Homo sapiens: one gene and its partner. The protein of the gene in region 1 purifies or fractionates together with the protein of each later gene. This does not show direct contact. Each region holds a gene or a part of one and is shown in the gene's direction. Other genes may lie near its edges. The genes, in order: WDR1 and POTEE.

Region 1 (16,283 bases):
AAGTGACTGGCATCACCCACCACCCACTGTATTGTCCAAACCATAGCTTCATCATCCCTGGGCTCCTTTCCTCTGACATCCAGGACAATGCTGCGTGTGTCCCCTGCCTGCACATGTCAGGCTTGCTACCCTCCAATCCTCCGTAGGCCACCACTCACAATGGCCCAACTCCAGTGTCCCAGGCTGGTCCATTTAACCCCACCCTCCACAGGGAGTAGTGACCCCAACAAGTCAATCTGATCCACATCACGCTTGACACATCCTGATGGCATCTGATCATGAGGTCATTGGGGAACCTCCATGAAGCAGCCCCAGCCACTCGCCCTGGCTCTAATTTCCCAGCCCTACTTCCATTCCACACGGGTATTCAGGGAGACTCCATTCCTTTGCCAAGCATATCACATACTACTCTATGCTCTTCACATCCTTCACATATCAACTTTAGAGTCCTACAAGAGCCTCCCTGACCTTCACACAGAAGAGATAACATGTTCCTATTTTCCATAGTACCTCCAGCCACCTAACATGTACATGACATTCGAGCACTTCTAATATGACCAGGCCTTAAGAGCCTGCGTTTTATCCTTATAACGCACCAACAATTTGTATTACAGAGGGGAAATAAGTGACTAGGCACCAAGCTCCAGAATACTGCATTCGTGTCTGACCCTTTGGTGTTCGGTAGACATGTGAGGTGCATACATGACTCTAGATGTTCACAATCCCACAGGTTGTGATAGTCCACATGATCAAGGTATCTTGCTACGTTGGCTTCACAATTCCTCCACGGTCAAGGTTGATACCCAAAAACACTTTGCTTGGAGGCTCCTTTTGAAGCTGGGTATTGATGTGGAGTGGGAGAACATTTGGGAGGGCTGAAGTAAGCTTTGTGAACCAAATAGACACCCAGTGGCTGACACCAGCTCTTATGACTGAGCACTTGCAGTTTCCAGGTTTCAAATATTACAAGGAACACAACGTTGATTTCACCACCCAGCATTTTAAGACCATTCCTACAAATCATATGGGGAACAAATTAGAGACCACTTTCCCGTACTACCTAAGATGAGATTGAAAATCATTTAACATCCAGTATGCCAGGCAAGCACTAGGTATGTGGCTGACCTGCCGACACTATACTGCCTCGGTCATCTTTAATCTGCAGCAGGGCCAAGTCTCTCAGGGTCCCCCGTGTCCCACGTGTGTAGAAGCCTCCACTGTGGCCACAACTGCAGCATCTTTCCCAATAGGACATAACTACCAATTTAACAGCTGTGCCTAAATGTACCTCGAAAAGCAGACAAAAATTAAAATCCTTTTACGGAGTCCATGCCAGTTGCCAGATATTCCAGAATGTGTCGAGCTACTCGGTCTATCAGCTTCATCGGAGTCTGAGCTCATTCATCTAAAACTTCCCCCTTTGATGTTTTCCCTTATTGAGGAGCCTCCTTCTACATGAACCTGAGTTGCCTGTGTATGGTAGGGACTTCCTGTCCAATCCCAGCAATGCCATCGGGAATGACTGGAACCCTCCCAGACCGGAACAAAGTGGACCGAGGTCCTTGTCTAGACCTAGGGCCCAAGCCAGGGACATTGAGACAGCACCCACTCCTGGTTGCTTTGTGGCCACCACCATCCTCCGGGTCATGCCTAGAAGCAGGAGTACTTTTATGGCCACAGCAGCCGAGCTAAGAAACTGGTCCCACGGTCCCCAAAGGCGGGGGAGATGCCAACTCCTCAAATGCTCCAGTGGTTGTTTTCTAAGGCAGCCATGTGTTTTAGGCCGCTTCATTAGAGCATTTTAGGATGAAAGCCAAAACCAGGGTCAGAGATAGGGAAGCACTTTTCAGTCACTTCCTCAGTGATTCCTTTGCCAGGCAGATATAGTGCAGGCACCTAGCCTCTTGATCCAGGTTGTGCCTTAAGTCCAGTTTCCCCAAGGGCTGGTGCCCCAGAATGGGTGGCAACACTTTACAGTGTGACCACTGCCACTGTCAACAAGGTGGGTCACCGCAACTCAACCGCCTCTGCCTTGTCCCCAAGGCGCTGAGAGGCTGGTGGTTGGGGCTTTACGGGTGGGAGGATGACAGGGCAAGCCCTACCTTCAATATAGATGAAACTCAGCCCCTACAGTGAAGTATTTTCTCAGTGTGTGACCTTGTTTAGAGACAGGGTGGCCTGCTGCTGCAATTAAGATGAAGTAAAACTCAAAGTGGGCCCTACTCCCATAGGACCAGTGTCCTTTAAACAGGGAAGCGGAAACAGGCACAGGGAGAAGACATTAAGGATGAAAACAGGGATGGGGTGGTGGTCCCACAGGCCAAGGAGCAGAGATGCCAGCAGACCATCAGAAGCTAGAGGCCTGAAACAGTCTTCACAGCCTGGCAAGGAGCCAACCACACCCCACCTCTTGATCTCAGATTTCCTGGCTTCCAGAAAAGAATTTCCGTTGAAACCACCAAGTTCATAGCAGTTTGTTATGCCAGCCCTAGCAGAGCAGTACAGCTTCCCAGCCACATGCAGATCTCAACTACCAGATCCCCACTGCTGGGATGGGCAATGTCTACCCAGAAACACCACCCACTTGGAGGGAGCAGATCAGAGCACCTGTTTACCACAGGCAGGCAGAGCCTGAGTCAAAGGAGCAAAGGGCTGAATGACACATGTCCAAGTTCCCTAGGCCCATCCGCAGTGCGATTCCCCCCCTCCCCCACAGGGAGGCATGCGAACGGAGAGGCAGGGCATCCAGCTGGTCACTGTCTCCATGGCAACAAATACAAGAGCCCTCCTCCACTAACAATCTATGTCCATCCTGTTTGGCAGAAAAGCTGACCCTTTGGTCCACGTGTTGAGGGAAGCCGACTATAAAGGCAGCTAATAGCAGAAGTGTTTGGAAATGGCCGGAGGCCACCGCCAAGGAACCAGGGGCAGCATTGGGAGGTGCTGGCAGGAGCTGTGATGGATTTGTGGCTGTGTCAGGGCTCAAAGATCCTCAGCACTCCTGGAAAAGAGGGCTGGGATCCAGTTCTGTTTAACAGTCTTGAACACTCAAACACAGGGTGTTGAGATCTAGAGTTTCTATGCTCATGGAGCAGAGGAAGGACCCAAGCCCTCAGGCCAATGGGCAAGAAGGCCACACCACAGGGTCTGTACAAGGAGACTCGCTGCAGCGAACAGCCTCATGACCGGAATCTCCATATCAGCAACAGGCACTGGCACAGCCCTCAGACCAGACCCCCACAGCACCACAGGATGCCCAGTGACCACGTAGCCAAGCCCCTGCACTGTGGGCACAAAACAAGCCAGACACCGGTGCTCAACAGCCAAACACGTTAGCTCTGACCACACAACTGGAGGCCAGCAAAGACCCAGGCACTGTGGACTGAGTCAGAAGGAAAAGGCAGAAACCCTAGGACGGTAAGTAGTTACCCAAAGACAAAGCTTTCAACTGGAGAGCGACTGACGCTATCCTTGAACTTGGGTGAGAGCATGCTAAGATTCTACCTTCACTGGAAAAGTTGGTTATTTAGGGGCACAATTAAAACTTCCATATCTGATCTATCCATTTCAGCCCTTTCACGTGTAAAGGACAGTTTAGACTCTGTAGACCCAACCTGTTTAACTCCTGGTTGCATCACTTGCTTTTCAACTCGGCAAAGTTCCAACCCAAGTTCCCTTCCCTGATGTAAGATGAAGGGCAAGGGCCCACAAACCCAGCATCTAGCTCACACGAAGTGCTTGCAAGTATGAGGGTAAGTAAACGTTCCAGGAAGGGTCCCGGGAAAGGACAGGCCGGGGCTGTCACCAGGCCTCACAGCAACACACCAAGTCTCAGGCAGCAGGTAGACAGAAGCGACTGTGTTCTATCACTTATGGGAGTTTAAGAAGAATGGGACAGGGGAATTGTTTAACTGTCCCCAGAGTTCTTTTGCAGCTACAGGAGCTTCGAAGCAGTGCAAGACACGGCCTTAGGTCCTCCAGTGTGGAGGCTCAACTCCACCCAGTTACCACCCCCTTCACCGGGATCTTGATGATCAGATAGCTTTCGTTGCCTGAAGCTATGGTTAAGAAACAAGGGTAGACAACCCAAGTAGGATATATTCCTTGTACTGTGTTACTAAAGTTATGCCGTTGATTAGCTGTTTAGAAGTACATCCTTCAGTAACCTCAAACTGAAAAGTTATGCCCAAGCTTCCATGACTTGCAGGGATTTAAAGCTGCTGCAGCATGCAGGTGTTAGTTATTTGCTTATTTGCAAAACCCACTTTCCAATGGGCTGCTCAACTGGAAAGAAAGGTATTTACAACACATAGGGCCCCCCAAGAAGGGATTCAGTAAACGAGTTCACTGGAGGGTTGCAGATAACTCATTTCTTGCCTTGGCAGAATTAACCGGGCTAACCCCTTTTGCATAAGGTTTATGCTAGCAGGTTAAAGGCTTTGTTACCAGTCCTCTGACAAAGGCATCCAAGCACTTCTGGCAAGGTAGCCCGGTTTCCAGTTCACTTTGGAGGGACAGCCCAGGCCCCACAACCCGGATTTTTCCAGGTCAAAAGGTGGATACCAGTAGCTGCTTTTGCCATGCATTTCACCACCCTCCCTAGTCACAGCTAGTAACGGACTATGGACTCGATCCAACCAGTGAGATTTGAGAATTAAAGATCTGAAAGCCTGACAGCGAAGCTAAAAGCGTTACACATTAACTCAGGCTGTGGGCAGCCACTTCCCACCATGTGTCAGACCCTCTAGAGGACTCACTGGCAATCACTCCAACTCCCTGTGCAGATGGGGAGGTGGAGGCAGCGAGACTGGCTTGAGGTAGTAGATAAAGGTGATTTACTCCAGGGACACTCCGGAGATGAAACTTTGAATATGACTTGAGCTTATTTATGAGACAGGGACAGGCCTGCAAAAGGGACTGAAATTCCTGGAGCAGAAAGGCTTCCCCCACTATACCCAACAGTCCTTTGTGGAAAGGGCGGGGGTTCAGTCCACAGGGTGAGCTAGACGGGAGCAGCGCTACCCTTGCATAGGGCTCTTCCTAGGGGGTTGATACAGTTGAAGCAACAGGAAAGAGAAAGCCCCCTTTTCCTGAGCCTGGACAGAACCCATGAGGGTTGAAAGTGAGGAAGCAGCTTGACAGGCTTTGGAGAGAAATTCAGCTCTCCTGTGGCTTTGTTCCTCCCCAAAGCTTCCAGTATAGGCCTCACACATCTGACGTATTTGCAGTTTGTGGCTCTAGAAGCCAGGACTCAGAGCGTGCTCAGAGGACAAGGTGCATTCCAGGAATCCACACGCCCCCACTGTTTGCGTTACATAAAGCGTTCAGAACCCACTCCAAACTTGTTTTCCCCTGAGTGGAAAGCTGTTAAACAGCTCATTTAGCACCTGACGCCAGTTAGCGGTTTGCCCAAGTTACCCAATTGGAGCTAGTTTACCCCAAAGGTAGTCGAAGAGTTAAGTATCCTAAGCTGCTGCTGCTTAGAAGTTTCAAGAACACATTGTTGCCACTTTAGAATTAAGTTCAGGTGATACTTATGTTGCTCGCTCACACAGCAAAAGGAAGAATTGCCACTGTCTGAAAAGCACGCAGGTGTTCATAGATCTGGCACACCTGCGTTCTGTTTCCAATTGTCTGGGTGGGCCCCTGCAACAAGTGCTCGAGCAACAAGGTCCCTGCTCTCAATCCCTAAAAAGGGGAGAGTCGAGACGCTGATGAACCCCATAGTCATAAGCAAACCAGTGTGCAACAAAATGGGAGTATAGCTTGAGGGTGGATTGGCCTTAAACTGAGGCATCAGTGAAGACCCAGAGACAGGTGCCAGAACAGAATGACCCAGGAGACTTGCTCCTTGAGCCAGGCAGAGCCTCAGCATGCCAGTGTCTCAGAAGCCCAGGGAGGATGTTCGGTCTCAAGATAGAAACCTAGGCTACCCAAGGCTCAACAAGCTTTTAAAGTTTCTCTGGCTGCAGTAAGGGGCTCCAAGCAGATACAGATTAACTGGTCAGGAAGAAATTAGAATAACCCAGGTTAAAGAGCACCAAAGCAGGGCTGTGGCTACAGAAAGATTTGATACAGAGGTTCTAAGCAACTAGATTTAGTGAAGGCTTTAACCTAAGTGGGGGGTGAGATTTCTGGTCAGTGCAGCTGGAGATGCAAGGACGCTGGTCACTATCGGAAGCAGCACCCCAGAGAAATCAGCAGGGAAGGGGAAGGCAAATTAGTCTTATTCTGGCTGTCGTTCAGTGCGAGTAAGGGGCCTTTCAGACCCTTCCTACGGAGCTCCAAGTAGACAGGTTCCAGAAAGGGCCAGAGAAGTAGCTGGGTCCTCAGAGATGTGAACCACTGGTGTATGCAGACCTCAGGATCCCCATCCTATTAGAGAGTTATGACAGCTGAAAGCAACTCAAGTATATCCTGGCAGTGACCCTTACACGCTTGACACCTGATAGCGGCTTAGCCACACCTTGGGAGTGTAGGTGTACCTGATCTGTATCAACTGCTTTTTGAAGCGCAGTTCTGTCCCAGCTGGCTGCTCTGGACCACTCTGTATTCAAGTCCCCTCCATACACCATATGTGTTCATTGGCTCTGGGTCGCCTCGGCTTCTCGAACATGGTGCCATCCCTATTTAATTCAGTGGGGGCCCAACACAACAGGATACACGAAGGCATGAGTGGTGACTAGGGGAGCCCAACGAATAGGCTAGACCCACAGTAAAGACGGTTCAAGTGTTAAAGCTCCCACAGCTGACAACACCAAACTGAGCTCGCGCCCCACAGGGAAAATCCTGGAACACCCTGGTGTTTCCCATTTTCCTTTCACATCCTTCAGATTTCCTGCCACGTTCATATAGACTCAAGTGACTACGAACAAACAGCTCCCCCACCACCACCATAAAGCCTCTGCAGCTCCAACATGTAACTTTCAAGCTAAAAATAAGCTGTAGAGCCCAGCAGCTGGGAGTTTGGATATGTTTTACTCAAGTTCGACTGTTTAGTTTTCAGTGTCAACTCCAGCAAGGCTTTATGCACGAGTGTAAAGGTTACCAGCTTGCAAGAGCTTGAAGTTGGTCCTTCGTTTTCTTAATCTTGTTACACGAATGCACTACCTGTGAATGCAATTATACCATTTGTTTTAAGGGTCTCAAGGTGATTTGATGAGTTCTAAGTTATCAAAGCAGATGCAGCGGCCTACAAGCCGGGCCTGCGTATCTTACTTTAGGAATCTGTTTTGTACATTCTCCACGGCTCCTCAGTTCGCAGAGCTACTTTCATATCCGTTATTTCCTGATTAACAGTTGTGGGTGGGGAGTGGGGTCATCCCTAGGAGCATCTTCCAGGTGTCAGGGTTATTCCTGAGAGTTAAAGTTAGGGAACGCGGGAATGAGAAGCAGTGTTTGCAAGGGGTTGAAGTTGCAATTTAAAATGAGACCGGTGACACTCATCAACTAACATTTGAGCAATTAAGTACTTCTGAAGGACACAGGAGTCAGCCAAGTAGATCTCAGGTAAGAGTTTCAGGAAAACACCCTCCGAAGCCAGTACCCAAGGCAAAGATGATACAGATGAGGGGAGGCGGACAACGGAGTCTAAGTGACCCGGAGACTGTCATCCAGGACCCTAATGGGCCGTTTTCAAGACTAGCTTTTACTTCATGAAACTTGGAGCCCCTACAGACAAGCTGAGGAATATTTTACTTCGGATGGATCACTCAGCTACCTGGAGAACACACAAGGTTAGGAAGAATAGGAGACAGGCAACATGGCCACTAACCCAGGTGAGCCACGAGAGACTGCTCTACAGAAGTAGGTAGCAAGAGACTAACCTTGATACAACCTTAAGCAGAACAGACCTTTCAGAGAAGCAGGAACCGCTCACAGCGTGGGTTTCAGAGTTTTTAGCTACCCGCAAGTACTTTGGTTTCTCCCACTTTTACCACCCTCCTAGCCCCCAGAGCCCCAATGGAAAACTTGTACCCACGCTACTGAAAGACGAGACTAGAAGCTTGGACACTTCACATTCCCTGCTCTCCCTTCCACAATTGAGCCACTGCCCTGGTTTTAGAAGTGGGGCTTGTTTTGCTCTGAAGTAACCCTTAACGTCCTTAGAAGTAGCAGCTCCCCTACCCCTCTCCCCACGCCTTTGCCTTTTAAAAACCTTAACTTTTGAGAGAGAGAAACAGCACAAGTTCAGGCCCAGCAGAGTAACCCCTACGTTGTTGCCAGCAACTACTTCAAGGGCAGTTAACCGTGCTTAAAGACGCCAAAAGCATCCATCTCCCGCTTACAACAACATTTAGCTACCCCCCACCCACGTACTTTGCTTTCTCCCACTTTTACAACCCTCCCACCCCCAGAGCCCCGAGGGAAAGCTTGTACCCATTCTACTGAAAGATGAGACTAGAAACTTGTACACTTCACAGCGCCTGCTCTCCAGCTGAGCCACTACCCGGGTTTTACAAGTGGGGCTTGTTTTGCTTTCTTAGGAAATAACCTTTAACTTCCTTAAAAGCAGCAGCGCCCCCACCCCCACTTTTGCCTTTCAAAAGCTAAACTTTTGAGAAAAAGCACGAGTTCAGGCCTAACAAAGAGTAACCCTTACGTTCTTGTTGCCAGTAACTACTTCAAGAAAAAGCACTTAACCGTGCTTAGAGAAAGACGCCAACAGCATTCCTCTTCCACTTACAACAACATTCAGCTACCCGCCCGCACCCCGCCAAATACTTTGCTTTCTCCCACTTTTACAACCCTCCCAGCCCCCAGAGCCCCAAGGGGAAAGCTTGTACCCATCCTACTGAAAGATGAGACTAGAAACTTGGACACTTTACAGCCCCTGCTCTCCCGCCACAACTGAGCCACTACCCTGGTTTTAGGAGTGAGACTTGTTTTGTTTAGGAAATAACCTTTAACTTCCTTAAGACCGACAGCTCCCCCATCCCCCACGCCTTTTTTGCCTTTCAAAAGCTCAACTTTTGAGAGAAAAAGCACGAGTTCAGGCCCAACAAAGAGTAACCCCTACGTTCTTGTTGCCAGCAACTACTTCAAGCAAGGGCACTTAACCGTACTTTAAGAAGACGTAAAAAGCATCCCTCTCCTGCTTACAAAACCCGAGCAGGAGGACTGGCGGCTGGGCAACGCCCGGGACCGGTCAAAAAGGAGAGGCCGGGGAGCGCCCGCCACGCAACGCGGTCACAGGTACAGAGAGGTTTTTCCAGACCCCCACCAAAGCCCGCCAGTACTTTCAGCGTCTTTAAGACCCCCCCGCAAATAAACTTCCTACAGCCCAGCTTCTCCTACAAGCTAGCAACAGAAAGGCACCCACCCCCCGACTCCCAGAAGCATTCTGACGCGGCTGCTTGTCTGCGCCGCCTTTTCAAGGGCCCGCGGGGCGTGCTATACGTCACTTCCGGGGCGGGGCGAGCAAGGCGGAGGCGGGGCCGGGGCCGGCGGGGGAGGGGAGCGCCAGGTCCGCGCAGGCTCGCCGGGACCGCAGCCGCCGAGCCGAGCGCTTGACTATATATGGTCAAAGCTGGGGGCGAGCCGCGCGCGGGACCGCGCTTCCGGGTTCGGGGCGTCCGCAACCACAGCGCGCAGGGCAGGCGCGAGCTGGCCTCTGAGCCCCGGCCTCGGACCGCCCACTCCACTCCCGGCACGCCCGGTGCCGCCTTCCGGCTCCAGTCCCCGGGCTCGGCCTCGGCGAGGTGTAATTCGCAGCGCGGGCCGGCCCCGGAGGCTCTCGGCGAGCGCGGCGCGGTAACAAGTGGGCGAGGATGCCGTACGAGATCAGTAAGTGCCGCGGCGCGGGGCCCCCGAGCGGCCGCCGCGCTGCCCCGGCCCCGGTCCCCGGCCCCTAGGCGCCGTGCGGGTGGCGGGGGAGTCCTCGGCGCGGGGGAGGGGTGCGGGCGCCGGCCGGAGGCGTGGCGGGGCCGCCCTCGGTGGTGCAGGGCGGGACCCCCGACGGGGGGTGCGCCCCCAAGTTGGCGCCGTGGGCCGAGCCGGAGGAGCCCCGCTGCCCCCAAGGGCCTGGCCCGGGGCGCGGACCAGGAAGTCGCGCGGTTCCTGGCGCTCGTGGAAAGTGGAGGCCGCCCTCCCGGCGCAGTCAACAGGTGACCGGCCGAGACCGGTCCGGGGCTCCTTCTCCCTTCTGTCCCCGCCGTCCCCGCCCTGCCCTGACATGCCCCGCCGCATTTGTGTCTCCGCAGAGAAGGTGTTCGCCAGCCTCCCGCAGGTGGAGAGGGGCGTCTCCAAGATCATCGGCGGCGACCCTAAGGGCAACAATTTTCTGTACACCAATGGAAAGTGCGTCATCCTAAGGAACATCGACGTGAGTACCCCCTACCCCGGGCGCGGTTCTGCTCCGGAGCCACCTTGGGATGGGATAATTCGCCTTCCTCTCCACTTCTCACCTCCTGCCCATTGGCCCGGGGAGGGTGAGGGCGCCACGCCCCCTCTACCGGGAGCCACACCTCGGAGCCCCGGAAGCCGGCCTCAGATTCACCCAGGTCCTTGTCTGCTCCTTCTTGATGAGGAAACTGAGTCTTAGTTCGTTTCTGTCTACGGTCATAGCACCCTGAAAGCGCCGGATCGCCTCTGATCTTGGAAGCTAAGCACGGTCAGGCCTGGTTAGTACGTGGATGGGAGATTAGATTAGTTCATTCCTTAAAAGCAAGGGCTCCGGATTTGAGGGATCAGACTGACCCGGTCGGCCGCTGCGTGACCTTGAGAAGATTGGCGATTTGGGCATCTCTGAGCCCCAGTTTTCTCGTCTGTAAAACAGATGATGAGATGATGACCACTCTCGCTTCGCCTGCTGGCTGGGCAGATGGAATGAATGAGCTGCTGGCGTCCCTCAAGCCCAGCGGTGCCTGGTGCACTTTGAGCCCTTGCTGAATGGAATGGCACTCAGCTAACTCGCTGTTAATACCCTGGTCTTCCAGTATGGCAGAGCCCGGAAAAACACCCGGGCCTCTGGGCCAGCCAGATCTGCCACCATGGATCTAAGCCCCAAAGCAAAAACAGGAAGCAGTGTTTTCCCATGAATCATTCTCTGCAAGCCTCCGGTACCCAGGCTGAAAAGGCTTCTAGAGCCAGCTCCTTGGGAAATCCTTGCAAATTCATGTTATTCCTCTGTAATTGTTGGGGTGACCCAGTCTGTCAGTCTCCCTCCCTTCCTGGGTTACACGCTTAAATTTTGCTTTTCCCTTCCTCAGCCTGAGTGATGGAATTGGTGGGGTGGGAGTTGGAGGTGCCGGCCCGGCCATTGGGTGATTTCTCCTGTGCTGTGCTTAGTGGGGGCGGCTGGCACAAAGATGTATGTTTTGATTGATGCCATAGGCATACAAGGGTTGTCAACTTAAAGTCAGCCTGATTTCCCTTGGTAGGTTGGGACTGTTGATCGGACACACTTGCCCTCCAGGAGGCCAGCAACTGGCTGAGGGAATGAAGGGGTCTCTGGGTCTCAGTTTCCTTCTCTGTGAAAGGAGAAGCCTCTTGGTCCGAAGAGCTGCTGGCTCTGCCCGCATCTGTCTCGTTAACCCAGGCAGTCGCTGCTGTTCCTCTGCTGGAAGACAGAGCTCTACCTGCCCTGGATTGCTGGGCCCCTCAAATGAGGGGGTGGGCGGGTGTGAATGTGCTTTGAAGGTGCTAACAACTTGCTAGTCACACAGATTCCTAGAAAGCCGAAGGGCCTTGCTTAGAACTGGAGAAAATCACCAGGGATCTAATGGTAATGATCTGGAAGTCTCCGAAGGCAGGTCCTGAGGCTTTTGAGAAAATAAAAATTGAGACAACCCTAAAGAGATATTTAGTAGTTTGGCAAATAAAATCCACTAACACGTCCTCGGATACAGAGCAGTAGGATATTTCGTTTTGCCCCTAACCAGGCCTTCCCTGTCGTTGCAGTCCACATTGACTTCCAGGGAGGGGGCCTCACATAAAGTACCTGCTGTGCATCTGGCCCTGTGATAGCTTCTTAAACTGTAGCATCTCTTTCCACCCCACATGGGTCCGTTACTCTAAAGAGGAGTCAGACTTAGCAAGGTGAGGCAGGCCAGTAACTGGAGCTGCTTCTAATGGAGTGGTCATTCAGGGACAGGCACCCCTTTGCAGAAAGCATTTCCCAGCTTGTGAAACCCATTCTGCCTGTTTCTGAGCTCTGTATTCTTACCCCTTCCCCGTGGTTTGCCATTTTCTTCTCAGGGGTTACCCTGTTTCCCTTCTCAATTATTTTTAAGTTTCTGCAATGCCAGGTCAGCACGAGATGCTACTAATATAGCCCTCCCTGGGCTGGATGTAGATCAGGCACTGAGTCTCTTGTTAGTTGGATGGGTGGACTGGGTACTCAAGTAAAGGTGGGTACGATTTTTTTTAGGGCAAAGTACTCTTGGAAAAAAAAGTGACATGAATTGGCATGACCGTTCAGGAAGGATGATGGTCTGTTTGGAATGCAGGCTCAGGGAGGGAAGAGGGAAGAAATGGAGGACCAGATCATGGAAGATCTAACATGTCTCATTGACATCTCAGACTCAACATACATACTCCAAGCCAAATTTGTGTTTCCCACGTGCTCTTCCCCTAAAAGGGAACACCGTTCCTCCAGCTGTTCAGGCCCCAAACCTTGGACTCCTGTTTCACTCTCTGCTTCGCTACTGCGCCACATTTTAATTTTAGTAAATCCTTCTGACTCCACATTCAAAGTATCTTCAGAATCTAACAGATTTCCCTGGCTTCCTCTGCCTCCACCCACGACTAAGCTATCTTCCCCCACCTGACTTATTGCCCCCAGACTCCCGAAAACCAAACAGGTCTCCTTGCTTTCACCCTTGTTGCCCTGGGGGTCTGTTCACAACACTCGCTGGAGTGGCTGAAACACAAGACAGGCCTCTAGTGGCTTCCCACCTCGGTGAAAGCCAGAGTCCTTACCGTGGCCTCGGCTCCAGCGTTCTTGCCTCCTTGCTGCTTCTTGAACATGCCACACATCTGTCTTGGTACCTGCTAGTTATTGCCTTTGCCTGGACATTTTCTCAGATAGCTGCAAGTCTTGCTCCCTGTCTTCTCTTTGGTTTTTCTTTTTTAATTTGAGGTGGAGGCTTACTGTCGCCCAAGCTGGAGTGCGGTGGCGTGATCTTGGGTCACTGCAACCTCCACCTGCCGGGTTCAGGCAAATCTCCTGCCTCAGCCTCCCGAGTAGTGGGGACTACAGGTACGTGCCAATTCACCTGGCTAATTTTTGTATTTTTTAGTAGGTAACGGGGTTTCGCCGTGTTGGCCAGGCTGATCTTGAACTCCCAACCTCAAGTGATCTGCTCGCTCGCCTTGGCCTCCCAAAGTCCTGGGATACAGGCGTGAGCCACCACACTAGGCCTTTCCCTTTGGTTTATACTTAGATGTAGTCACCTTAGTAGAGGGGTGTCCCCGGAATAGAATTTTCCATCCCCGGCCTTCTGTCTTTCTCATTGCTGACAATAAGTAGGAAGCAAGCTAACAAGCAGCAGGCTACGGCTGCCTACAAGTGTACATAGGTATCTGCCTGTCCCCCTAACTGGGCATCAGCTCCAGGCCAGCAGGGCTTTCCCCTCTCTTTCAGTCACTGCCGTGTCCTCGCCTAAGAGAGTGTCTGGCACACAGTAGGTGCTCAGTGAGTTACTCATTGATTAAAAAGCCTGGAAAACCAGGCTGTGTCGTGAAGATAATAGGCAGCCACTGAGGTCTTACTGCATGAGAACAAGGAAAGCTCAGCTCAGTGTAGATTGCCGGACCTAAATTTTGTGGAATCGCCTTTCATACCTAAGAGGCGAGCACCGTTGCCAGCTTTGCACTTGGAGCCCCCTCTGTCATTTATTTTGTTGACTTAAAAGCTGTTTTGTGAACCCAGCATAATGGCACTTCTTAAACTTGTAGAAAAAGGGTGTTTCTTACCTGTTTATTTCAACACATCTCGTTGCCTCACCTGGAGAGGCAACTCTCCTCTGTAGAGTGAAAGACTATAATGGTGGCCATGTAGAAACTAATATTCCAGAAGGAGAGAGCTCCAAGAAGGGGATTCCAGTGAACCATATGTACACTGTGTTTGAGAGACATTAGTTCCCCACGGAGAAGGGATGGATAGTCTGTGCTTCGGGGGTCTAAGGAAGGCTTCCTGCAGGTGCTGGTACCTCCTTAGGTCTGGGGTGGTTCCTTCTAAGTTTCCTTACCCTGCCTGCATCACCTCTGCCTCTTATGACCTCTGTGCAAAGACTGGGAAGGGTCACCCCCAATGGCTGTGAACGAACCTGTTTGTGATTCTAAACAGGGCACGGGACCATCCTACAATAAAAATTACCCAGCCTAAAATGCCAGTAGTGCCAGTAGTCCCTGTTTAGAAAAAGAAAAAAAAAAAGCAACTTTTGCCTCACAACAGAGGCCCTCTTGTGTGCTGCCAGGCAGCCAGCAGATTTGCTATGCAGGCAAGTTTGGGGCCTGGTTTTTAAAGTATCCAGTTCCTAGATTCCAGAACTAAAATACACATTTGGAAAAATGATGTCTATAAAATTGAGTTTCCGGGAGTGCAAGGTTTATAGCAATTTGACACTGCTGGGAACCCAGGCGCAGTATCAGTGGACTTTTCTCCTTGAACAGGGGGCAGACCAAGTGGGGGGTTGGGGAGGGTATTGGGCTCACTCTTGGTTTCCCTTGGTGTGAGCTGCCACCATTCACATGCAGAGGACTCACCTGTGTTTCCTGCGGGTTGGGGGTAATGGTGGCATGACAGAGGGCTTGAGGACTGACCTAGCTGCTTCTCCGGAATTGGACGCCTGCTGACTACCTGCGTGTATCCAGATGGCCATTGGCCTGTGGGGGTGCAGGATGGAGGCCCTGCCCACATGGAGCTCACTGTCCTGGGTGGGAGTGAAATAAACTCTAGGTGGCAGAAGGAAGTGGTGCGTTGGATTATCACCTGGGTGCAAACGAGCTGGCAGCAGCGCCTGCCAGGTGCAGAGCCAGGAACCTCTAGGCCTTCAGTCTGACCACCTGATGGCAGGGGAAGCAGAGGGTGGTGGGGGGCCTTCATCTCAGGAGAATCTGAGTGGCTGCAGGTGCCAGTCAGGACGCTGGGCTTCTGCAGATGGGACCACATCTGGGAGGACCGAAGGGCCGGGTGCTTATGGGCTGTTACTGTGGCACTGAGCGTGAGGGGAGTGGACAGGACCCAGGCTGAGAAGTGCTGGTGTGCAGTGGTGGCAGGTGGCTCACACAGCCCTACCATAGCGCAGCCCTGCTCTGAAGGCCACTGGAGCCATTCAGAGGTCTCACAGACAAGTAATCAGATCCAGCCTACGGTAAGGAGAAGTTCTGTATCTGAGATCTGAGGCAGGGAAGCCAATTAGGAAGCTGCTCAAAGATGAAGGCGGCGTCAGCGCAGGTTCCGTTGCGTGGTGCAGCCATCTCTGGCTCTCACGTTTCCCACACATGTTCACTAAGCCCCTGTCTTGGCAAGCCATACCCTAAGCCACAGAGGACCAGGATTAAAATCAGTGATTTTCAGGGAGGGGTAATTTCCCCCACCTCATTCCCCTGAGGGATATCTGGCAACGTTTGCAGACATTTTTGTGCCACTGGTATCTGAAGTCAGGGTTGTGGCCAAACATCCGACAAGGTACATGGCCGTCCTTCCACAAAGAACTGTCCAGCCCCAAATGCCAGGGGTACCAAGGTTGAAAACTCTGGTAAAGAACCTTCGAAGGCACCAGGTTAAGTGCTTCAAAAGAACAATGCCCTGGGTGCTCTGGGAATGTGAGGGAGGAGCCAGCTGTGCCACAGAGCGGGGACAGCTGCTGGAGAAGTGCCACATTTGAGTTGGGTCTTGAAGGATGAATAAGAGTTCTCCAGGAGGAGCGTTGAGACACACGGCAGAGGTGGGGAGAAACCAGGCAGGAAACAGCATGTGTACCTGGGTCCTCTCAGCCCCACTGTGGCCTCCTGTGTGTTGCTTTTGGTACATTTCTTGCCCTGTTGGAGGTAACGGGAGGGATACTGAAGCCATCTTTGAGGTAAGAGAAGAGGTTTAGCCTCATGCGTAAGACTACTGGAGAGATGGCCTTGCCCAAGAGTAGTTGGAGATGCTTCTTTGGAGAGTGACCTCCACCTTCTGCAAGGCCCTTGTTAGGGACAGCTGTGGACACAGGAAAGGGCCCTGTGTGCGTCTCTTCGCCGTCTCAGTGATGGGCAGGCACTCCCTGCCCTGGCGATGTGCCTGCTCCTTAGACCTGTGGGTCCTTAGCTTTGGTCACCTTGCTTGTCACTTC
Region 2 (16,262 bases), on another chromosome or scaffold:
TAGCCACTGCCGGTCCATCCACAGTGGACTCTGGGTAGGGTAGTGGGTGGGCACATGGTGGCACACTTGGGAGGTCCTTGTCGTTTGCAACACACAAGGCTGTACCCGTGACCCAGACAAGCCCTGGCCTGCCCCGCCTCACAGCCCTGCTCCCAAACAGGACTCTTCACACCCCGGGAGGTTCTGGTGAGGCTTGCGGCAAAGCCTGGATGTCTCTCTGACTCTTGGATTTCCAAACCTGAAGCCAGAGTGACCTGCATAGATGGGTGCCCAGAGGTCCTGCCTGCCACCTCCCTAAGGCCCCAGGCAAGCAGAGCCGCATCTGTGTTGGGGAGGTGAGGGTGAGTGGGCTCCGGGGGTGGGGGCAGAGGCATGGCCAGTCTGTCCTGGGCCCAGTGTATGTGAAGACAGAGCAGACAGCCTGCTGGCACGTAAACACAGGATGGGGTCTGGGCACTGTACCCTCTGGCTTGGACAGCAGAGACCTGGGGCTGCGGTCGGGGGTTGCTTTCCTGCACCAGCCTGGCCCTCCTGGACACTCGCCCAGCTTGCAGATCAGGCAGACAGTGCCATTGTTGCTGCAGTGAGAAGGGTCCAGGTTTATCATGCACTTGGGCTCCAGCCTGGCCACCAGGCCCTGGAGCACGCTGGGGATGCTCTGCTGCTCATCGTCCTCAAGCCTGTGCTTCAGGGTGCATACCACTGGGGCCTTGGGGAGGCACCATGGTGACCACACTGGGCACACATGGCCCAGGGCCAGGCAGCCACCCTCCGCGAAGCCCAGCCCAGCTGGATGTACGTGATGGGTGGGCTGTGGATGGCAGTCATGGTTGGAATGATTGTGCGGTACAGGGAATGGTTGAAGAGGGTGAGCGGATGTTGGCCAGGATGGCATCCAGGAGCAGCTGGCATAGGTACTGCTGTTTGGTCGGTGGCACCGGGGGCAGTGGGGGAGTGGGCTGGAGCAGGATGGGCACGGTCAGCAGCCCGGAACCTGAGGGTTCCCCATGTAGGGGGCTTTCCCACCCCAGGCCCGTCCTCACAGCCAGATTCCCGAGGCCTCTCTCTCAGCCTCCACCCTTGTGCAGACAATGTTGGCCGATCCTGGGTATAATCACCACCCCCACAGCCTTGTCCGCCCCAGAGTCCCTGCCCCCTCTGGGCCGGGTGGCAGAGGCACTGATGGGGGCCGCAGATAGAGAGTGACTTCTCCCACGTTCCCACCCAGCACAGCAAACCTGGCCTGGAAGAGGCCTGGTGGGCAGGGTCTCAGGTCAGGCCCAGCCCCTACCCGGCCACCCTAACCTTGAAGGCCCCTCCCAGCAGTGGTCCCAGGAGCTCTTGGGGGAGCCCCAATTCTCCCAGGGATGCCCAGGATCCCACACTCACCACTGCCATGTCAGTTTTGAGTTTTTTTTTTTTTTTTTGAGATGGAGTCTCATTCTGTCACCCAGGCTGGAGTGCAGTGGCGCCATCTCGGCTCACTGCAAGCTCCACCTCCTGGGTTCACGCCATCCTCCTACCTCAGCCTCCCAAGTAGCTGGGACTACAGGCACCCGCCACCACGCCCGGCTAATTTTTTTTTTTTTGTATTTTTAGTAGAGACGGGGTTTCACTGTGTTAGCCAGGATGGTCTCGATCTCCTGACCTCGTGATCCGCCCGCCTCGGCCTCCCATCGTGCTAGGATTACAGGCATGAGCCACCACGCCCAGCCAATATTTTTAAATAAAAAATTACAAAGCTGTTTTTCTTAAAATGTTACAATAAAATTGTATCTGTGTGTAAAATATATCTATTTTATGTGTACGTGTGTGTGTGTGTGTGTGTGAGTGTGTGTGAGAGAGAGAGAGACAGAGAGAGACAGAGAGAGAGAGAGTTATGAATTAGGAAGCATATGTACCAAAACATTAGGAGTAGTTGAGTAATGAGATTATGAATGATTTGCACTTTCTTCTTTATACCTTATCATCATCTCAAAATTTACAATCAGAATTCATTATAAGCTATTGTTTGTTTATTTATTTATTTATATTCGCAGTGGTGTGATCTCAACTCACTGTAACCTTGGCCTCCCAGGGTCAAGCAATCCTCCCACCTGAGCCTCCGGAGTAGCTGGGACAAATCAAAGTTAAGTTTTCTTCAGTTTAAAATAACTTGTTATAATTATGTTGTTTAGCCTCATGGTAACTGGAAAACAAAAATCAATAATAGACACCCTAAAAATGAAAAGCAAGCAATTAAAACACACTACCAGAAAAAATTACCTCACTACAAATAGACAGGAAGGAAGGGAAGGAGGAAAGAAAAGAAAGAAAGAGATCAGAGAGAAGAGAAAGAGGAAGGAAGGGAGAAAGAACAAAAGAAAAAAGAGGGAATAGCAAAACCACCAGAAAACAAGTAAAAAATGGCAGTAGTATGTTTTTACCCGTTAATAATAACCTTGAATATAAATGAATAAAATTCTCCAATTAAGACAGAGTGGCTGAATGGATTAAAAGACAAGACCCAATTATATACTGCCTACAAGAAACTCAGTTCACCTATAAACATACATAGACTGAAAGTGAAGACATGATAAATGATATCCCATACCAGTGGAAACAAAAAAAGCAGGAGTAGCTCTACTTAGATTATATAGACTTTCAGTCAAAAAAAGAAAAATATGAAGATAATTATATAATGAGAAAGAAGTAAACAGCAGAACAATTACAAGTGCATATGCAACCAGCACTCAAGCAACTAAATACAGTAGCAAATATTAACAGATCTTAAAGCGTAGACTGCAATACAGTAACAGAATGCCTCAATGCTCCGCTATAATCAACACCCCACTATCTTCAACGGACAGATCATCCAGACAACAAAACATCATCAGTTAAACTGTACTCTATACCGAATAGACCTAACATTTACACAGCTTTCCATTCCACAACTGCGCAATGCACATTCCACTGAATAGCATACGGATTATTCTCCACAACAGACTATGCGTTAGGCCAAAAAACAAGTCACAACACATTTTTAAAAACTGAAATCATGGCCAGGCGCGGTGGCTCATGCCTGTAATCCCAGCACTTTGAGAGGCTGGGGTGGGGGGCGGATCACAAGGTCAGGAGACAGAGATCATCCTGGCTAACACAGTGAAACCCTGTCTCTACTAAAAATACAAAAATTAGCTGGGCGTGGCGGTGTGCGCCTGTAGTCCTAGCTGCTGGGGAGGCTGAGGCAGTAGAATGCCGTGAACCCGGGAGGTGGAGCTTGCAGTGAGCCAAGATCGCGCCACTGCACTCCAGCCTGGGCGACAGAGCAAGGCTCTGTCTCAAAAAAAAAACAAAAAAAAAAACAAAACCTGAAATCATATCAAGTATCTTTTCTGACCACAGTGGAATAGTACTAGAAATCAATAACAGGAGGAAAAACTGTACAAATATATGGAAATTAAAATACATGCTCATGAACAACCAATAAATAAATGAAAAAAAAGAAAATTAAAAATTTATTGAAAAAATAATAGAAACACAACATAACAAATCCTGTGGGATGCAGCAAAAGCAGTTGTAAGAGGAAAAGGGCATAGCTATAAACACCTACATCAGAGAAGTAGAAAGATCTCAAATAGCCAACCTGACAGTACACCTGAAGTAGTGAGAAAAATGAGAAAAATAAAATGCTAAAATTAGTACAAAAATATCATAAAGATTAGAGAAGAAATTTTAAAAATAGAAACAAAAAATACAAAAAGTCAATGGAACAAAGAGCTGGATTTTTTAGAAAAAAATCAAAACTGACAAGCTTTAACTAGACTAAGGAAAAGAAAAAGAAAAAATCATAGATGAAAAATGAGACATTGCAAGTGATAACACAGAAATATGAAGGATTGTAAGAGATTACTAAAAACACCTATATAAAAACAAGTTGGAAAATCTAGGAGAAGTGATAAATTTCTGGACACATAACAAATTCCCAAGATAGAATGATAAACAAAAAACCGGAACAGATCAATAATGAGTAATATAATTAAAGCAGTAATAAAAAGTCTTCCGTCAAACAAAAACACAAGAATCATGGTTTTACTGCTGAATTCTACCAAACATTTTTAAAAGAGCTAATACCAATTTTACTCAAAATATTCCCCAAAAAGTGAAGAGAAAGGAAGTCTTCGAAACTTGTTCTATGAGGACAGCATGATCCTGGTACAAAAACCAGACCAGGAAACAACACAAAAAGAAAGCCACAGGCATTTTAAATATCCCTGATAAACACAGATGCAAAAAAATCCTCAGCAAAATACTTGAAAATTGCACTTGACAACACAATAAAAAGATGATCTGCCATGATCAAGTGGGATTCATCCCAGGAATATGAGGATGATTCAATAAAACACAAATAAATAAATGTACGACATCACATTCAGCGAATCAGGAACAAAAACCATATAATCATTTCAGTAGATGCTGAAAAAAATAAAAATCAACATTCCTTCATGGCAAAAACTGAACAACATGAGTACAGAAGGAACATAGCGCAATAAAGGCCATATATGATAAACCCACAGCTAACATCATAATCAATGGGGAAAGGTTAAAACTCTTCCTCTAAGGCCTGGAACGAGTGTGGCTACTTTTACACCACTTTTATTCATCATAGTACTGGAAGTCCTAGGTAGCGCAATTAGACAAGAGAATGCAATAAAAGGCATCCAAATTGGAAAAAAGGAAGTCAAACTGTCTCTGTTTGCAGGTGACATGATCATATATATATACATAGAGAAAGAGAGAACCCTAAAGATTCCACAAAATCACCTACAGGAAATAATTTAGTCAAGTTGCAAGATACAATATCAGCACACCCATGCACCAATAGTGAAATACCTAAGAAGGAAATCAAGAAAGCTATTTCATTACCAAAAAAATTATATCTAGGGATAAACTTAACCAAAAAGACAAAAGATCCCACAATGGAAACTCTAAAACACAGATGAAAGCTATTAAAGCAGACACAAGTAAATGGAAAGATATCCCATGTCCATGCACTAGAAGAATATTGTTAAAATGTCTATATCACCCAATGTGATCTAGAGAGTCAATGCAATCCATGTTAAATTACAAAAGACATTCTTCATAGAAATAGGAAAAAAAAATCCTAAAATTCACATGGAAACGCAAAATACCTCAGATAGACAAAAGAATCTGGAATAAAAAGAAAAGCTGGAGGCATCACACCTGACTTCAAAACATACTACAAATCTGTAGTAAGCATGGTAATACCAAAACAGCATAATACTATCAAAAAAAGGGGCGGGGGAGAAACAGAAACGAAGGAATGACAGACATAGACAAGTGAAACAGAATAGAGAAATCAGAAATAAATTCACACATTTATGGCGTACTCATTTTTAACAAAGGCACCAAGAACACACATTCGGGAAGGACAATCTCTTCAATAAACTGCTAGGATAACTCAACACCCACATGTGCAGGAATACATCTAGGCCGTTATCTTACCATATACAAAAATCTGCTCAAAATAAAGATTTAAATGTAGGACCTGAAACTATAAAACTACTAGAGAAGAAAACATAGGATAAATGCTTCATGAAACTGGTTAGGACAAGGAATTTTCAAATAGACATCAAAAGCACAAGCAACAAAAGCAAAGATGTAATTACATTAAACTTGTCAAAAGCACAAGCAACAAAAGCAAAGATGTAATTACATAAAACTTAAAAGCTTCTGCAAAGCACAGGAAGAAATCAGTAGAACGAAGAAACAACCCAGAGAATGGAAGAAAGTATTTGCAAACTATGCATCAGCCAAGGGGCTAATACACAAAATATATAAATAACTACTCAAAAGCAAAAATACAAATAATTTGATTAAAAAAAAATCTACCCCAAATCTTTGTCTCCCACCATTATTTTCCCACCTTCTTTTCCCGACCGCCTTTGGCCTCCTCCCCCTCGCCACCCGTTTTCTTCCTCCATCTACCCCAAAACTTTTTCCCCACCATTTTTCCCTACCGTCATTTCGCAAAGCCTTCTCTGCTCTCTCACTCACCACCCTTTTCCCCATCCACTTACCCACTTTCCCCACTGTTTTTTCCCACCGTCTTTTCCCTTTCTCCCTGGCCACCTTCTTTTCCCCCATCCCACTCTCATCACCCTCTTTTGCTCCTTCATCTAAGCAAAAACATTTTCTCCCGTCTTTTCCCAAACCCTTCTCCTCACTCCTGCTGCTCACCACTTTTTCGCCCTTCATCTACCCGAAAACTGTTTTCCTCATCGTCTTTTCCCCCGCTCCTCCTTGCCACCCTCTTTCCCTTCTCTACCCAAAAACATTTCCCCATAGTCTTTTCGCAAAGCCTTCTCCCCACTCCTGCTCACCTCCCCTTTTCCCCCTCCATCCACCCCCCAGAATATTCCCTACTGTCTTTTCACAGTCTTCCCCCCTTCCCACTCGTCCTCTTCTTTGCCCTATCCTGCTTGCCACTCTCTTTTTTGCCTTCCATCTACCCCAAACTATTTTCCCATTTTTTCCCCAACTCTCTTTCCCTGCTCCCTCTCGTCACCCTCTTTCCTCCTCCTCGTTACCCTCTTTCCCCCCACCATCTACCCAAACACTTTTTACCCACTGTCTTTTCTTTCTCCACCGTCTTTCTTTCCTGCCCACTATCTTTTTGCAAAACCTTGTCTTCCTCCCGCTGGCTACCCTTTTCCCTTCCCCCACCTGTTACCCTCTTTTCCCCCTCTATCTACCCAAAACCTTTTCTCCCCACTGTCTTTTCACAAAACCTTCTCTCTCTACTGCTCAACGCTGTTTCTCCCCCCCACCACCCTCTCTTTCCTCCTCCCTTGCCACCCTCTTTTCCTCCTCCATCTACCCATAAACATTTTACCCACCATCTTTCTGCAAAACCTTCCCTCCCTGCCGCTCCCCACCCCGTTTTTCTCCCTCCATCTACCCAAAAACTTTTTTTCCCACTATCTTTTCCCCACCGCCTTTTTGCAACGCGCTCTCCTGCTCACTATCCTCTCTTCCCTTTGGCACTAACCACCCTCTTTACCCCCTCCATCTATCCCAAAACTCTTTTCCTCCTCTTACCGCTTCCGCCGCACTGCCGTCTCGGTCGCGGTTACCACCAGTCGCAGCGAGGCGAGCCACGGTGTAGCGGCTCCAGCCTCCAGCGTACGGCTGGTGATTACCCATTCCTGGTCCTCTAAGCCGGGCACTGAGCAGCTCCACAGGAAAATACGGGAACGTGGAAGAGCCTGACTTCCCTTCAGCAGCAGGCGTATACCGCGGTTATATACAGGAGGATTCCTGACTGCATGTTCTGATTGGATGAGAAAAACCCTCCAGGGTTACTTGGATTGGACTTTATTATCATGTTCTGATTGGATGAGAGCCAGTCTTAAGACAACCAATCACAGCATGAAAATAAAGTCCAATCAGAGTAGGCCTAGAGGTTTTTCTCTCATCCAATCAGAACATGTAGTCTGGGAACCACATGTGCGTAACCTCAGTACGTAAAGCATGCGGAGGTGGCGTCAGGTCATTTCAGGCTCTTAAGTGTGGGCGTTTGGTAACCGGCATGGCTGCTACCTGTTTCTGGCTGGAGCCTCGGACACTGGCTCACTGCAGTTGGTGGTGTCCACAGAGCGGTAGGAGGGCAACTAGTAGCGGGAGCTTCTCCTGCCAGGCAGGAAGACGAGTAGAAGGGAGCAGCACCGACGCATGCTGGAGGCTGGAGCCTGAGCCCCTGGGGCTCGCCTTGCTGTGTTTGGTGGTGACGTGGGACACTGCAGCTCGGCCAGAGTGGTAGAAATGTCCTGGTGTAGGTGAGTTATCCGGGGATGTACTGCCCGCCTGTGGGGGCAGGGGTTGGGTGTCCTATTGGGGCTCACTGCCCGAGGCTGCACTGCCTGTGTCAGGGGGCTGGTTGGGGGCACTCTCCGAGGTTGCATTGCTGGCGGTGGAGGGGGGCGGTTTTGGCTGGCTGTCCGGGGCTACACTGCCCGTGGTGGCGGGGGTGGTGGGGGGGAGGCAGGTTGTGTGCACTAACGTGTACTGCCGGTGGCGGGGGAGGGGTTAGGGGCACTATTTTCTGCTGCACTGCCCGGGGCAGGGAGTGGTTTGGGTGGTTATTTGGAGCTACAATGCTGGCAGCGGGGGGTGGTTTAGGAGTGTTGTCGGGTGCTGCACTGCCCTTACTCAGGGTGCGCTATCAGGAGCTGCGCTACCTGTGGTGGGGTGGGGGCGGCGATTTTGGGGCACTGTCTTGTGCAGCAACACCTGTGGCTGGGTCAGGTTGTGGGCACTATCGGGTGCTACACTGCCTGTGGAAGGGGTGGTTGGGGGGGGGTATTGGGGTTACACTGCCTGCAACTGGCACAGGGTGTGTTGGGTGTGCTGTCCGGGGGCTACACTGCCGGCGGCAGGGGTCAGGTTAGGGTTGCTATGGGGGCTATACTGCCAGTGGTGTTGGTCGGCTGCAGAGGTGGTGGGGACAGCAACAGCCATGGTCTCCTTGCTCCTTCGGGTAACTCTTCTCTTTTCCAGACTCCAGAGTTCCTGCTCGTGCAATCTTGAGCAGGGCAGGGCCCCCACACCCACTGCGGTTCTCCGGCCTGCACCTCCCGCCCACACCCCATGCTCTGTGTTGGGGAGACCACCTGGGACTACCGGGTGGGGATTAGTGGGCATCGCGGGGGACTGTGGGAACAGGGCACTGTGGGTGGAGGTGTCAGGAACGGGAACCAGCAGTTGAGTGGGGAGGGCTGGCTGGGTCTGAGTTTCTCCTACTCCTGCTCCCCAAGGAGTGCAGCCCTGGTGGGCCCAGCAATTTCTGGCCAGTTGCACCTGGATGGGGGTGGTTTCAGCATAGGCACTCACACCCGCCCCAGTTCCTGGCCACCTTTTGCCAGAAAGAGAGGCTGGACTTCGGTGGGTGGGTGTGAGTGCCTTAGCTGAAGCTGGTCCCTGCCACCCAGTGGCCAGCATGACAAGGTGAGGCTCTAACGTTACCACTCCCTGCATCCCATTCTAGGCTTTTCTGGCTTTGCCGGTCTAGCTGCTCCAAGCCAGGCTGGAGGAGGAGGAGAAGGAATCACCTGTGGTACGCTGGAGCCTGCATGTGGCGTGACTCTGCAGCTCGCCTCGTGTGACTGATGGCAGCCACGGAGACTGCAGCTCGACAGGAGTGGTAGGAGGGTGCCCGCGGGGGCAAGGTGGTAGGAACCTTGTAGGGTGGGCTGCTGCATTGACGGCGACAGCAACTGTATTGGCATTGGTGCTAGTGGTGGTAGTGGCAGAAAGTCTGGGGACTGGGAAGGGGGAGTAGGAGCACTGCAGGGCCCAGTCCGACCTGGGGTGGGGAGGAACCTGCTGGTGCTGTACCATGGGCCTCGGTGGCAGTGGTGGAGGTGCACTTAGGGAAAGGAGTCCTCCCCCTTCTCTTGCAATCTCTGGAGGGTGGCCTCCTTCTGAGCCAGGCATGAGTGGCAGCATTGTCTCATTCTTAACAAAATTTAGGGGGTGACTGTGTGTGTGTGTGTGTGTGGCTTTTTTTTTTTTTTTTTTTTTTTTTTTTGAGACAGAGTCTCGCTCTTTTGCCCAGGCTGGAGTGCAGTGGTGCGATCTCGGCTCACTGCAAGCTCTGCTTCCTGGGTTCACCCCATCCTCCTGCCTCAGCCTCCCTAGTAGCTGGGACTACAGGCGCCTGCCACCACGCCCAGCCAATTTTATTTTTGTATTTTTAGTAGAGATGGGGTTTCACAGTGTTGGCCAGGATGGTCTAGATCACCTGACCTCATGATCCGCCCACCTTGGCCTCCCAAAGTGCTAGGATTATAGGCGTGAGCCACCACTCCCGGTCATTTTTTCCTTCTTTTTTGTTGTGATGGTCTTGGACTTTTTCAAATTTTGTGAATTGGGGAGGGGATAAAAGGTGTCATAATAGGCCTTCTAATTCCTGCACCTGTTCTTTTTGCTTTTTCTAGTCTGTGTATTCTTCTCATCTTCTTGTTCCTCTTCATTTTCTTTTGCTGCTGCTTCTATTTCATGTTTCTATTCTTGTTTCTCCTCCTCTTTTTGTTTTCTTTATGCCAAGCAATGGCCTTAACAAACAACAAGCCAAAATTGTCACTGTGTTGTATTTTTAAAATAACTGGTCCTTTACTATGTTTTAGGGATGAGGAAAAAAATCAGTTGTATAATTAGTTACTTGAATAGCTATGCTTTCATGATTGTGTTAAACCACTTATGCCTAGTGTTCCATTATTGGAATGGTAAGCATGAGGGAGTTAATTACATCCTACTGCTCAAGGTCATTAGAAGGTTTGATTTTTCACTCGTGCAAAAATTCAAAAAATTGCAGCCTCTGGCATAAATGGGCTAATGCGTTATAAGTAGTTATTCAGAGAATCAAAAAATGAAGCATCACATAAAAATATTGGTGGCAAACAGCCATTTCATCTCTCTCACATATTTGGAGCTATGCAGGAGTCACGGGGTAAGTTCTAATTTATGAGATTATTAAGTGAACTGTATTGCCTTCATTTTCTCTGCCACCATTTCCTTTGTTTTCTTTCTTTTTTTTTTTGAGATGGAGTTTTGCTCTTGTTGCCCAGGCTGGAGTGCAATGGGGCGATCTCGGCTCACTGCAACCTCCGCTTCCTGGGTTCAAGCAAGTCTCCTGCCTCAGCCTCCCGAGTAACTGGGATTGCAGGCATGTGCCACCATGCCCAGCTAACTTTGTGTTTTTAATAGAGATGGGTTTTCTCTATGTTGGTCAGGCTGGTCTTGAACTCCCGACTTCAAGTGATCCACCTGTCTCAGCTTCCCAAAGTGCTGGGATTGGAGGTGTGAGCCACCACGCCTGGCTCTCTGCCACCATTTTCAAGAGTATTGCCATCTGCCTGAGCAAACCTGGTTCATCACCACCTCTTTGCAAGAGAAAAAGGAAGTCGGGAGAATTGTGTGTAATTTTTTTTTTTTTGAGATGAAGTCTCGCTCTTGTCCCCCAGGCTGTAGTACGATGGCCCGATCTTGGCTCACTGCAACCCCTGCCTCCTGGGTGAAAGCAGTTCTCCTGCCTTGGCCCCCTGAGTAGCTGGGATTATAGGTGCCTGCCACCACGCCCGGCTAATTTTTGTATTTTTAGTAGAGATGGGGTTTCACCATGTTGGCCAGGCTGGCCTAGAACACCTGACCTCAGGTGATCCACCCACCTCGGTCGGCTGTGTGTATTTTAAGGCAAAGATTCACAACCAAAAACAAGGCTTTATTAACTTTTGTATCTAAGAACCTGCAGTGTCGAGCCCTCTTTTATTCCTAGTATTACTACTTTAGGTGTGAACTTTTTATCTTTATTTTACTGATTCCTCTAGAAGTTTATGCATTTTCTTGACTGCTTTAAAGACAATCTATATTGTATCATTTTTCAAGCCCGTAGAAATGTGTAAGGCCTATAATTTGAACACTTGTTATTTTTAAGGTTATGAGCATGTAATATACCATTGATACATGGAAGAATATGTATAAATACCACTAGATAGGTTATATTGAAGAGATAATATCTAAATTTTTGTCCAGAGTTGATGGGGTGCAGTTTTGTAGGTGTGTTTCTCAATACATTGTGTCCATGTTTTAAAGCATATAGAAATTTGAATACTGTTTAACCTCATATAGTCCTTGTTTATAGGTTTAATATTTCTAAAGACTAAAGACGTCACAGCTCCCTTTAAGATTCAGTAATACTAATAAAATTTGAGATATACAGGGTTAGAGTCCAACAAATTCAAAGGAAAATTGTTGAATTATATAGCCGTAGAGCAGGAATGAAACCCAGGTTCTAAGTTCCAAGGGGGCCATGAGCTACCATACAGGTGCATCAGTGACTGGGCATAGAGTTGGCAAAATTATTTAAGAGAGTGAGCTGTGGATCCTAATTATGTGAACATGAATTTTTGAACTGCATGGTGCCTCAGTTTATCCATCATTACAGTGGGGACAGTAGTAAGTTTTTCTTTTTCTGCTCAGTTGTCTGAATTATTACCCCAGTCTCTCTTGTTGCCACTCTTGATGCCCACATGAGAGGATCTAAGGTAATTTCTGACAACCTGGGACTCCTTAAGGAAAAACAGAAGGTTCCACAAACCCCATTTTAGGAGAAACCTCTGTTTTCCTCATGGAACCCCAAGAACTTTAAGCAGACAGGTCCCTCTCAAAAATCTAAGGCTCTCCTCTGTTTTGCCTTGCGTTGTCTGACCTTTTTGGTTTGGATGGGCATCAGAAATTAGTAGGGGAGAGAGATCTAAAGAAAATTGTGGATATGAAGATGTATTTATTATAAGAAATGTTATGAAGGAAAGAAATGTTATATGAGAGAGGATCTTATATGGCAAATTGTTGTCCTAAAGTAGAATGACTAATTACAAAAGAGGGAAATACAGGACAGGTCAGATAAATTTAATCATGTCGTAGATAGTCTGTGGAAGTTGTGTTATGGTTCATAAAGTGGGAAAGAAAAACTGAACAACTGCTAGATCTTTTCTTGTCTAGAAGTGTTGTGTATGTGATGTATATATAATGGCTCGGCTTAAAAGAAAATGAAAGCTCTTAAATATTTTGTAAGAAAAATAGAAGCTCTAATGCCTTTTATTTCATGTGACTTCAGTAATCTTTGGGAAATAAAGATGGTGTTAAAGTCAGTGGTAAAATAAAAATATCTTCAAAATTTATCCATTTGGTCTAATTTAAGTCAGAGGTTAAGTTTTAGAAGTGCTTTAATGTCATAAATTGATGCTTTGACTTTGGAAAATAGTTTTGTTTACCTGGTTTGGAGCCGTTAGATTTCTAGGTAAGGTCTCCGGACAGGTGGAGTTAGCCATGTCTCCTAGCTATGCTGGAAGGAGTCAGATTTTATCTGCAGTTCTGTCTTGTATCCTAGACTCTGCACCTGGTATGCAATTAAAACTTACTGCTGCTGCTAATCTCTGGGTTCCATTTAAAATCCTTCCATCACATGAATACTATCCCCTGTACTAAATTTTTCCACAATTAAATACTTAGAATCATTTTTGCTGACTTGACCCAACCATTAGTGATATATTTTAAAAATGCTTATAATGTGTCACAATATATTTAGCAAATGTAGGGAATGACATTTTTACTTTCTTCAGCATTTACATAGCATTTATGTAGCAATGCTATCTCAAGTATTTTTAATCATTTAAACGTTAGATAATAGATATGTTTTTGATTCCTTTTTTCTATGTAAATAAATATAATTATGAGATATTTAGTAAATAGTATCAATTGCATATGTCACTTACAGAATATACAATGCAATTAGGATTATTTTTATACACTACATCATATTTACTTGTTGGCTTTACAATAACTTAGAAATAGTATTCTGGATTAACTGTGTGACTCATGAGAGAGGGAGTTTGTGCAATTATAGTCTTTACAAATTTTTACTAGATTTTTCAAGACTTACGCTAGAACTTTGAGAACAAGGTAATAAATAAGCATATCTGTTAATATCACCTTTGGTCAACTCTTGGCTAGACCCAATGATAATGTAGGAATTAACATAATTTTTCTACTAAAGGTGTTGGATTTGTTCCGAGAGACCACAGTTCAAAGTCATTGACAAAGAAAGTTTAAAAATTGTTAGATTAAAACCTTTTAGTGTGTTTGAAATTGTTTTGTAGAAAAATATCCTGGTTTGCATTGATAGGTTTTTTTTTAAATAACAACTAGACCAAGAGAAAGGGAGAGTAGTGATAAATGTCCATGTTTTCGAGTTGAAAAGTAACAATCAGTGTATTACAACAGATGGATTTGATGTCAAATTACAAATGCTGAGAACGTTATATGTAACTGACTTGCCAGAGTAATTATACAAGGCAAAGAAAGGAAAGGCATCTAAATAGGAAGGGAAGGGGTGAGATTGTCTGTGTTTTAGACTCCACAAAAAACCCATTACAGCTGATAAACACTATATTCAATAAAGTTGAGAGTTACAAAATTAACATTGGTTTCCATACACCAATGACAAACTGTTATCTGAAAAATAAGGTAATTCCATTTATAATAGCAACAAAACAAATATATAAGTAAATCAAAGAGCAAGGAGTAATTTTAATGAAGGATGTGAACGATTTGTATACTGAAAATTATAGCACATTGATGAAAGAAATTGAAAGTGACAAATAGAAAAAGTCCTATATTTGTCAACTGAAAAAATTAATATTGTCAAAATTTCAATGCTACTCAAAGCATTCTACAGATTAAATGCAACCGCTGTCAAATTCCAATGTCATTCTTCACAGAAATAGAAAAATTAGTCCTAAAATCTGAATGGAACCACAAAAGATGCTGAAAAACCAAAGCAATCTTTAGCAAAAAGAACAAACCTGGAGGCATCAGACTACCTAATCTTTGACAAAGCAAACAAGAAAATGGGAAAGGACACCCTATTCAACATATGCTGCTGGTATAATTGGCAAGCCACATGCAGAAAAATGAAGCCGTTCTTCAAAGGTTAAATACAGAATTACCACATGACTCAGTAAATTCACTCCTATGTATACACCAAAAATAAATTAAAACAAATGCCTTACACATAAAGGTATTTATAGCAACAAAAAGTAGGAAACAACAGAAATGTCCATGAATTTTGGAGTGGATTAATAAAATGTGGTCTGTCCATAAAATAAAATATTACTTGGCAATGAAAAAGAAAAACATATTAATACATGCTCCAAAAAGGATGAACATTGAAAACATGATAAATGAAAGTAGTAAGTCACACGTAACTATATTATTATGATTCCACTTACATGAAATGTCCAGAATAGGCAAATCCTTCCAGAATAGGCAAATTCTTAGGAAGTAGATGGATGATTGCCTAGGGCTGGGAGAGGTTTAAAGGAAGAATGGGGAAAATAGGGAAAGATTGCTAATGGGTGCAAAGTTTCTTTTAAGGAGCATAAAAATGTTCTAAAATCGTGGTGATTGTTTAACTAGTTAATACACTTAAAAAACTGAATTTTATACTTTAAATGAGTGAATTAAATAATATATAAATTGTATCTCAATGAACCTGTGAAAAAAGTTAAAAAATATGTGGTATGCATAAACAAAAAGTTCTTCATTTTATTTCCTAGGGTTTTGGGGAAAAGGTGGTGTTTGATTATATGAGTAAGTTCTTTAGAGGTGATTCAGGAGATTTTGGTGCACCCAACACCTGTGCAGTATACACTGTATACACTGCACCGGGGCAGGAGCTGGCTGCAATCCTGTGGCCCCAAATGCCCCCTTGCTGATGGCCTCGTGTTCTGGGTGCGGAGCAAAGAGGAGCAGGTGTTGAAGGCACCTCAGGCAGGCCCTGGGCTCGGTGGGCGTCTTGTGCTCCGCGATTTTGAGGCCATTTGCAGCCAGCTCCGTCAGCCCGAGCTCCCAGCTGCAGCTGCTGCCATGCACAACAGCACCGCCAGGAGTGTCCTGGGGGCTTTTTTCAAAGGAGGCTGTCAGCATCCTCAAGTTCCAGACGCTTAGCCCCAGTCCTCCTTTAAGAGGCTTTTTTTTTTTTCACCAGAGGCTTCTCAGTGGCTTGAAAGCTCAGCTGACTCCCACGAAGTTTGCCGGAACTCAAGGCTGTCAGTGACATTCGTGGCGCCAAGACTTAAGCAGGCGCGTTGCATGCATCGGCCAGTGTCTGTGCCACGTGCCCTGACGCCACCTGAGATAAGCACGCCGCACGCCGCACGCCGCACGCGCACGCCGCACGCGCACGCGCACGCCCGGCAGCAGCTTGCTGGCTTGTAACGGCTTGCACGCGCACGCCGCACGCGCATAACGGTTTGGCCGGCCTGTAACGGCTTGCACGCGCACGCCGCACGCGCGTAACGGCTTGGCTGGCCTGTAATGGCTTGCACGCGCATGCTGCACGCGCTTTAACGGCTTGGCTGGCCTGTAGCGGCTTGGCTTGGCTTTGCGTTCTTGGCTTGGCTTGGCGTTGGTAGCTTGGATTGACGTTTCCTGCTTGGATTGACGTTTTCTCTCTCGTGTTCCTTTGCTGGGCTTGACCTTTTCTCTGCTGGGTTTGGCATTCCCTTGGGTGGGCTGGGTGTTTTCTTGGGGGCGGGGGTTGGCCCTTTCTGGGGTTGGCCCTTTCTGGGGTGGGCGTGGGGTCGCCCAGGGGGGGCGTGGGCTTTCCTCGGGTGGGTGTGGGTTTTCCCTGGGTGGGGTGG

Evidence for each region.
Region 2: the proteins of WDR1 (region 1) and POTEE purify together in Homo sapiens (affinity purification with mass spectrometry; 2 studies listed by BioGRID and IntAct, with this or other methods). This does not show direct contact.

Annotation. Positions count from the first base shown.
Region 1 is NC_000004.12:10,110,154-10,126,436, reverse strand, and holds the start of WDR1 (WD repeat-containing protein 1), read left to right. Parts: upstream 1-9,637; 5' UTR 9,638-9,770; coding exon 9,771-9,786; intron 9,787-10,202; coding exon 10,203-10,324; intron 10,325-16,283.
Region 2 is NC_000002.12:131,201,982-131,218,243, forward strand, and holds the start of POTEE (POTE ankyrin domain family member E), read left to right. Parts: upstream 1-7,554; 5' UTR 7,555-7,838; intron 7,839-9,046; 5' UTR 9,047-9,202; intron 9,203-15,607; 5' UTR 15,608-15,702; exon of another isoform or gene 15,703-16,262.